Linked DNA regions of Homo sapiens: region 1 is linked to region 2. Evidence: fine-mapped expression QTL. A gene starts in region 2. The other region holds a variant in brackets. All regions are shown on one strand. Distances are from middle to middle. Region 1 has its middle 24 kb from the start of GCLM. Region 2 holds the start of GCLM (glutamate-cysteine ligase modifier subunit).

What was found. PIP is the estimated chance that this variant, and not a neighbour inherited with it, causes the effect.
Region 1: its variant is the best candidate, but not a certain one, in a credible set for the expression of GCLM in whole blood (TOPMed, PIP 0.52).

What each region holds. Positions count from the first base shown.
Region 1 is chr1:93,931,116-93,935,518 of GRCh38, reverse strand. No RefSeq gene overlaps it. Among named protein-coding and RNA genes, the nearest start is that of GCLM, 24 kb to the right of the region's middle. The variant C/T (reference allele first, on the strand shown) is at 2,565.
Region 2 is chr1:93,907,811-93,912,150 of GRCh38, reverse strand. GCLM (glutamate-cysteine ligase modifier subunit) reads left to right here and starts at 2,721. Exons shown (of 7, transcript NM_002061.4): 1 at 2,721-3,113. The coding sequence starts at 2,988. It overlaps LOC124904221 (a long non-coding RNA gene), which reads right to left and starts at 2,559. Exons shown (of 2, transcript XR_007066230.1): 1 at 1,997-2,559. RefSeq lists an enhancer at 2,198-2,357 and silencers at 2,398-2,637, 2,848-3,207, 3,258-3,307.

The DNA of each region.
Region 1 (4,403 bases), 23 kb before region 2:
GGCTGAGTAGAGTTAGGAGAGTTCTTAAGGGCCCTAGGATTTTCACAATGGTAAATGCATGGGCCTCACCTTAAAATTACCTGCTGCATTGGGCCCTATCAAGAGAGTCAGCCTGTCCTTTGAAGCTTTGAAGCCAGGCATTGACTTCTCCTCTCTGGCTATGAAAGTCCTAGATGGCATCTTCTTCTGATATAAGGCTGTTTCATGTACATTGAAAATGTTGTTTAGCATAGCTACCTTCATCAATGACCTTAGCCAAATCTTCTGAATAACTTGCTATTATTATTAATACATTATACTCTGGGTAATGAACAATCATAAAAATCCCCAACCCAACAGCATCCCTAATAATTACTGTGGCACTAGTTATAAAACTTGGACTCTCCCCATTCCATTTTTGAGTCCCAGAAATAACAGAAGGAAATCCACTAATATCAGGCATAATCCCATTAACATGACCAAAACGGGTACCAATTTCAATTCTACTCCAAGTATCATCAATTGACCTAAACATAATACCAATCATTGCTATAATATTAATTCTTGTAGGAGGCTGAGGACTAAATCAGACACAATGACAAAAAAACTTAACCTATTCATCAATTACAATAATCTTGTCTACGAATTTACATTATACTAAAAATTACTGTATTCATAATATTCAGTTTAAACACAACTATCACAACATTATCACTTCCACATACATAAAATAAATTATCACTAATAACTTCCACAATCCTTATAATCCTATTATCTTTAGGGTTACAATCACCACTTACAGGATTTTTACCCAAATTAATCATTATTCTGGAATTAACCCCCAAAATAGCATTATTATACCAAAATTTATAGTTATCATGCATTATTCAACTTACATTTTTATATACAATTGTTAGTGATGTTGAGCATCATTAACAATATTCCCAACAACCAACAACATGAAAACAAAGAGACAATTCAAAAATACAAAACATTCTTTCTATCATTACTTGTTATACTATCAACCTTTTTCCCTCTGACTTGCACCAATATTCTCAACACTGGACTAGGAATTTAATTTAGACAGACCAAGAACCTTCAGATCACTAAGGCTGGGCATGGTGACTCATGCCTGTAATCCTAGCACTTTGAGAGACCAAGACAGTTCAAGGCATTACTAGAGGCCAGGAGTTCAAGACCAACCTGGCCAACATAGCGAGACCTCGTCTCTACAAAAAAAAAAAAAGACTAAGAAAGTACTCCATACTTAATTCCTGAAAAATAAGGACACAAGACTCTATCTTACATCAGCAGAATGCAAATCAAACACCTTAATTAAGCTAAATCCTTACTAGACAGATCAGTGGCATCCAATCCCGCAGAGAGTTAGTTAACTGCTAACTCTAATCAACTGGGTTTAATCTACTTCTGCCATCAAGGGAAAAAAGGTGGGAGAAACCCTGGAAGAATTAGAGCAGCTCTTTTGAGTTTGCAATTCACTTTAAATATTCACCACAAGACTTGGTAAAAAGAGAGCTCAATCTCTCTTTAGATTTATAGTCTAAAGCTTACTCAGCCATTTTACCTTACTGTCTACATTCATTAATCTTGACAAACCACAAAGGTATTAACACACTGCATTTACTATTTGATGCTTGAGCTGGAATAGTAGAAACTTTCCTAAATCTTTTAATTTGAACTGAAATGGGTCAATCAGTGGCCCTGATAGTTGATGATCAAATTTTATAATGTCATCATCACTGCCTATGTGCTGGTAATAATGTTTTTTATTTATTTATTTTTATTATTTTTCCATAGGTTACTGGGGTACAGGTGGTGTTTGGTTACATGAGTTTTTTTTTTTCGTTTGTTTGTTTTTTGTTTTTTGACACGGAGTTTTGCTCTCGTCGCTCAGGCTGGAGTGCAATGGCGTGATCTCAGCTCACTGCAACCTCTGCCTCCCGGGTTCGAGCGATTCTCCTGCCTCAGCCTCCCAAGTAGCTGGGATTACAGGGATGTGACACCACGCCCGGCTAATTTTTATATTTTTAGTAGAGATGGGGTTTCACCACGTTGGCTAGGCTGGTCTCAAACTCTTGACCTCAGGTGATTCATCCACCTCAGCCTCCCAAAGTGCTGAGATTACAGGCGTGAGCCACCACACCCAGCAGTTTATATGAGTAAGTTCTTTAATGGTGATTTGTGAGATTTTGGTGCACCCATCATCTGAGTAGTATACACTGCACCCTATTTGTAGTCTTTTATCCCTCGCCCCCACACTCCCACTCTTACCCCCAAGTCCCCAAAGTCCATTGTATCATTCTTATGCCTTTGTGTCCTCATAGCTTAGCTCCTACATATCAGTGAGAACATAACGATGTTTGGTTTTCCATTCCTGAGTTACTTCATTTAGAATAATAATCTCCAATCTCATCCAGGTTGCTGGGAATGCCATTAATTCATTCCTTTTTATGGCTGAGTAGTATTCCATCATATATATATATATATATATATATATATATATATATATATATCTCACAGTTTATCCACTCATTATTGATTGATGGGCATTTGGGTTGGTTCCA[C/T]GATTTTGCAATTGCAAATTGCTGCTATAAACATGTGTGTGCAAGTATCTTTTTCATATAATGACTTCTTTTCCTCTGGGTATATACCCAGTAGTGGGATTACTGGATCAAATGGTAGTTCTACTTTTAGTTCTTTAGGGGATCTCCACACTGTTTTCCACAGTGGCTGTTACAGTTTACATTCCCACAAACAGTGTGTAAGTGTCCCCTGATTACTGCATCCATGCCAACATCTGCTTTTTTAAATTTTTTGATTACGGCTATTCTTGCAGGAGTAAGGTGGTATCGCATTGTGGTTTTGATTTGCATTTCCCAGATCACTGGTGATGTTGAGCATCTTTTCATATGTTTGTTGGCCATTTGCATATCTTCTTTTGAAGATTGCCTATTCGTGTCCTTAGCCCACTTTTTGATGGGATATTTTTTTCTTGCCAATTTGTTTGACTTTGTTGTAGATTCTGGATATTAGTCCTTTGTCAGATGCGTAGACAGTGAAGATTTTTCTCCCATTCCGTGGGTTGTCTGTTTATTCTGCTGACTGTTCCTTTTGCCATGCAAAAGCTCTTCAGTTTAATTAAGTCCCAGCTATTTATATTTCTTTTTATTGCATTTGCTTTTGGGTTCTTGGTCATGAAATCCTTGCCTAAGCCAATGTCTAGAAGGGTTTTTCCAAGGTTATCCTCTATATTTTTTACAGTTTCAGGTCTTAGATTTAAGTCCTTAATCCATCTTGAGTTGATTTTTGTATAAGGTGAGGGATGAGGATCCAGTTTCATTCTCCTACATGTGACTAGCCAATTATCCCAGCACTATTTGTTGAAAAGAGAGTCCTTTCCCCACCTTATGTTTTTGTTTGCTTTGTCAAAGATTAGTTGGCTGTAAGTATTTGGGTGTATTTCCAGATTCTCTATTCTGTTCCATTGGTCTATGTGCCTATTTTTATACCAGTACCATGCTGTTTTGGTGACTATGGCCTTATAGTATAGTTTGAAATCAGGTAGTATGATGCCTCCAGATTTGTTCTTTTTGCTTAATCTTGCTTTGGTTATGCAAGCTCTTTTTTGGTTCCATATGAATTTTAGAATTGTTTTTCTAATTCTGTGAAGAATGATGGTGGTATTTTGATGGGGATTACATTGAATTTGTAGATTGCTTTTGGGAGTATGGTCATTTTTACAATATTGAGTCTATTCATTTACAAGCATGGGATGTGTTTCCATTTGTTTGTGTCATCTACAATTTATTTCAGCAATGTTTTGTAGTTTTCCTTGTAGAGGTCTTTCACCTCCTTGGTTAGGTATATTCCTAAGTATTTTATTTTATTTTTTGCAGCTATTGTAAAAAGGGTTGAGTTCTTGATTTGATTCTCTGCTTGGTCACTGTTGGTATATAGAAGAGCTACTGATTTGTGTACATTAATCTTGTATCCAGAAACTTTGCTGAATTATTTTATCAGTTCTAGGAGCTTTCTGGAGGAGTCTTTAGGGTTTTCGAGATAAATTATCATATCGTCAGGAAACAGTGATAGTTTGACTTTCTCTTTACCAATTTGGATGCCCTTTATTTCTTTCTCTTGTCTGATTGCTCTGGCTAGGACTTCCATTACTATGTTGAAGAGGAGTGGTGAGAGTGGGCATCCTTATCTTGTTCCAGTTCTCAGAGGGAATGCTTTTTGATTTTTCCCCATTCAGTATTATGTTGGCTGTGGATTTGTCATAGATGGCTTTTATTACATTGAGGTATGTCCCTTGTATGCCGATTTTGCTGAGAGTTTTAATCATAAAGGGATGCTGGATTTTGTCAGATGCTTTTTCTGTATCTATTGAGATGATCATGTGA
Region 2 (4,340 bases):
ACCTGACTTCAAACCATACTACAAGGCTACAGTAACCAAAACAGCATGGTACAAAAGAGAGATACAGACCAATGGAACAGAATAGAGGCCTCAGAAATAACACCACACATCTACAACCATCTGATCTTTGACAAACCTGACAAAAACAAGAAATGGGGAAAGGATTCCCTATTTAATAAATGGTGCTGGGGAAATTGGCTAGCCATATGTAGAAAGCTGAAACTGGATCCCTTCCTTACACCTTATACAAAAATTAATTCAAGATGGATTAAAGACTTAAATGTTATACCTAAAACCATAAAAACCCTAGAAGAAAACCTAGGAAATACCACTCAGGACATAGGCATGGGCAAGGACTTCATGACTAAAACACCAAAAGCAATGGCAACAAAAGCCAAAATAGACAAATGGGATCTAATTAAACTAAAGAGCTTCTGCACAGCAAAAGAAACTACCATCAGAGTGAACAGGCAACCTACAGAATGGGAGAAAATTTTTGCAATCTACCCATCTGACAAAGGGCTAATATCCAGAATCTACAAAGAACTTAAATTTACAAGAAAAAATCAAACAACCCCATCAAAAAGTGGGCAAAGTATATGAACAGACACTTTTCAAAAGAAGACATTTATGCAGCCAACAGACACATGAAAAAATGCTTATCATCACTGGTCATCAGAGAAATGCAAATCAAAACCATAATGAGATACCATCTCACACCAGTTAGAATGGCAATCATTAAAAAGTCAGGAAACAACAGGTGCTGGAGAGGATGTGGAGAACTAGGAACACTTTTACACTGTCAGTGGTAGTGTAAACTAGTTCAACATTGTGGAAGACAGTGTGGTGACTCCTCAAGGGCCTAGAACTAGAAATACCATTTGACCTAGCGATCTCATTACTGGGTATATACCCAAAGGATTATAAATCATGCTACTATAAAGACACATGCACAGGTATGTTTATTTTGGCACTATTCACAATAGCAAAGACTTGGAACCAACCCAAATGTCCATCAATGATAGACTGGATTAAGAAAATGTGGCACATACACACCATGGAATACTATGCAGCCATCAAAAAGGATGAGTTCATGTCCTTTGTAGGGAATGGATGAAGCTGGAAACCATCATTCTGAGCAAATTGTCGCAAGGACAGAAAACCAAACGCTGCATGTTCTCACTCATAGGTGGGAATTGAACCATGAGAACACTTGGACACAGGGTGGGAAACATCACACACTGGGGCCTGTCATGGGGTGGGGGGTTGGCGGAGGGATAGCATTAGGAGAAATACCTAATGTAAATAACGAATTAATGGGTGCAGCAAACCAACATGGCACTTGTATACATATGTAACAAACCTGCACATTGTGCACATGTACCCTAGAACTTAAAGTATTATAAAACAAAAAGTATAGACAAATCTTATTCAATCTTGAGTTCAGAAGATAGTTATATCGGGTTTCATTATAGTATTCTTGCTATTTTTGTATATGTTGGAATTATTTACAACAAATGTTAATTGTATGTTACAGTGCATCAAAATGTGTTTAAGTAGTGGTGGTGCTTGTGGGTAGCTCTTTCACTATAATAAAAAATCAATATCCAAAAAAAAAAAAAAAAAGCAGCGCAAGCTCGTTCAATGAACTCTTACCATCATTCATTCAGCCAACAAATATTTACTCAACATCAGGCTCAATTTCTAACTTCCTAGAAAGATCTTTTTTCCCATCCCTCCCCTAATTCTTACCATTTTACCAACTGGTTCATCTCTCTTTTCAATAGCTATATTGTCCCCGCTTATAATGAGAATCTCATTTTGCCTTTAATAATCTGATTCACCTCAACGAATGTGAAAGATTGTTGAGGAAAGCTCAATACATGTTCAATTTGATGTTTATACCGAGTCCACCACCACACGTGAAATTTAATAGGGGTAAATAATCTCGACCACCTCTAAAGGGGTGGGTGATAAAAGCTTTCTGTGATCTCACCGGCTCAAGTGTCCTCTTTAATCTGAATTCATCTGGAGAATAACTGCCCTATGATGTTCTTATAAAATTACTTGTTTCCTGTGCTTAGAACTTGTCTCTGGGTAGAGTGTACGCGTCTCAAGGGCAAAGACTCAGTCTTGTTCGTTGACTTCACACACTGCCAGCAAATAATGTGAATCAATAGACCTTTAACGGATGAAGAAAAATTAGCAGTTTGGGAGAAGGTCCTTGAAGGTAGCAAAGCGAAAAGAAGAAGGGGGCGCTTGCGCATAAACAGCTGCTTCTGAGAACGAAAACTACGTAGCATTTCCGAGTCCCGGTGGCCGCTCAGGCTGCCCTTTAAAGAGACGTGTAGGAAGCCCACCCTGGGGCGGCCGTGGGCGGAGCCGCGACCTGAACGCCGGGAGACCTCACCAGGCGGAGGCGGTGTCTACCTCACCAGGCGGAGGCGGTGTCTGCCTCGCGCTGTCCTCTGACCGCCAGGGGGAGCCCTGCCGCGCGCTGCGCTCCGGGCCGCGCCGCCACGCTCTCTCGACCCGCGCGCCCGCCGCGCACCACCCGTCGCCACGCCCGCCGCAGGCCAAGGGCCAGTCACTTGCGGGCCGGCGTCCCGCAGCCCATTCGCGCCCCGCCCCTGCCCCGCCGCGGGATGAGTAACGGTTACGAAGCACTTTCTCGGCTACGATTTCTGCTTAGTCATTGTCTTCCAGGAAACAGCTCCCTCAGTTTGGAATCAGCTCTCCCGCTGCGGCCGCAGTAGCCGGAGCCGGAGCCGCAGCCACCGGTGCCTTCCTTTCCCGCCGCCGCCCAGCCGCCGTCCGGCCTCCCTCGGGCCCGAGCGCAGACCAGGCTCCAGCCGCGCGGCGCCGGCAGCCTCGCGCTCCCTCTCGGGTCTCTCTCGGGCCTCGGGCACCGCGTCCTGTGGGGCGGCCGCCTGCCTGCCCGCCCGCCCGCAGCCCCTTCGCTGCGCGGCCCCTGGGCGGCCGCTGCCATGGGCACCGACAGCCGCGCGGCCAAGGCGCTCCTGGCGCGGGCCCGCACCCTGCACCTGCAGACGGGGAACCTGCTGAACTGGGGCCGCCTGCGGAAGAAGTGCCCGTCCACGCACAGCGAGGAGGTGAGCGTGGCGACACTCGCCGCGGGGCTCCCGGGGCAGGCCTCGGGCGGGGCCGGGCGGTTCCGGCAAGGGAGAAGCGCCCGCGGGCGAGGGAGGGTGGCAGGGCCTCGCGCGCACCTGGGCTCCGCCCGCGGTCAGATGCTGAGGCCAGTGTCGACGCGACCTTGGGTCCAAACCCGCTGCCGAGGGCAACGCGTCTAAAAAACTTAGCCGGTGCAGCTGCGCACTGAGTGACACCTCTCTCGGTGCTTAAGGCTGGTAGCAAAACTCTCAAACATCCTGGGTCCCTCTTCCTGGCACGGAGGTCACAGAGGGCCAGGACGTCGCTCCGTCTCTCTCCACATCTCTCGCTTCCTTCCCCCACCCTGTCCAGGTAAAGGAATATTTTCGGAGATTATCCTTTGGTGCATTCAGATGAAGTAGTATTCATAGTACACCTAACTTTTAGAATGTTGACATTAGACTCTCTATTGCAGTGAGGCAAATGAGTAAGCACTCAATTTTGGCTTTGGAATACCCTAAATACCCTGACTTTAGTCATTACACATTTTATGCACTTATCTGTGCGTCTATGTATGCTTTATCAGTACACATTCTATGCATGTAACAATATCATTGTACATTCTATGCATGTAACAGAATATCACATGTGCCCCATAAATATGTACAAATATAATCTATCAATTCAAAAATTAAAGTTTTGTAAAAACTGGAAAATAAAAAGACTAGTCACTAGTTGGAGGTGACAGAGATTAATCTGGAATTACAAACTTGTTACCTATTTGTTGGCCATTTCTGAGCGGATAGTCATCCACTGCACATTGTGCATATTGGTGGTATGGGACAATTTTAGTATTTAAAAAATAACAAAATCTTTAGATTTAGGAGCTATATGACTTTGGAAAATTACTTTAAAGTTGGATAATAACACCTTCCTCATCAGGTTGTTGTGAGAATTAAGAGGTAATATATGAAAACGCTCACCATGCAGGCATCTATCTCCCTGTCATCTGGTTCCATCAGAAAGATAAATCTTAATTAAGAGAAAAACCTTCCTAAACTATGTGTGTTTAGAAAAACCTTCCTAAATCAGCTGTGTTCCTAAGTGGTTTCTGCTCTCTTCTATGAGATGTTGGTAACAGACCATGCAGCAGCACACGGCATCCCTCTGAGTTAAGTGCTGGACCTGTGCCCAGGCCTGTTGTTGGGGTCAGTGCCCATCAAGAG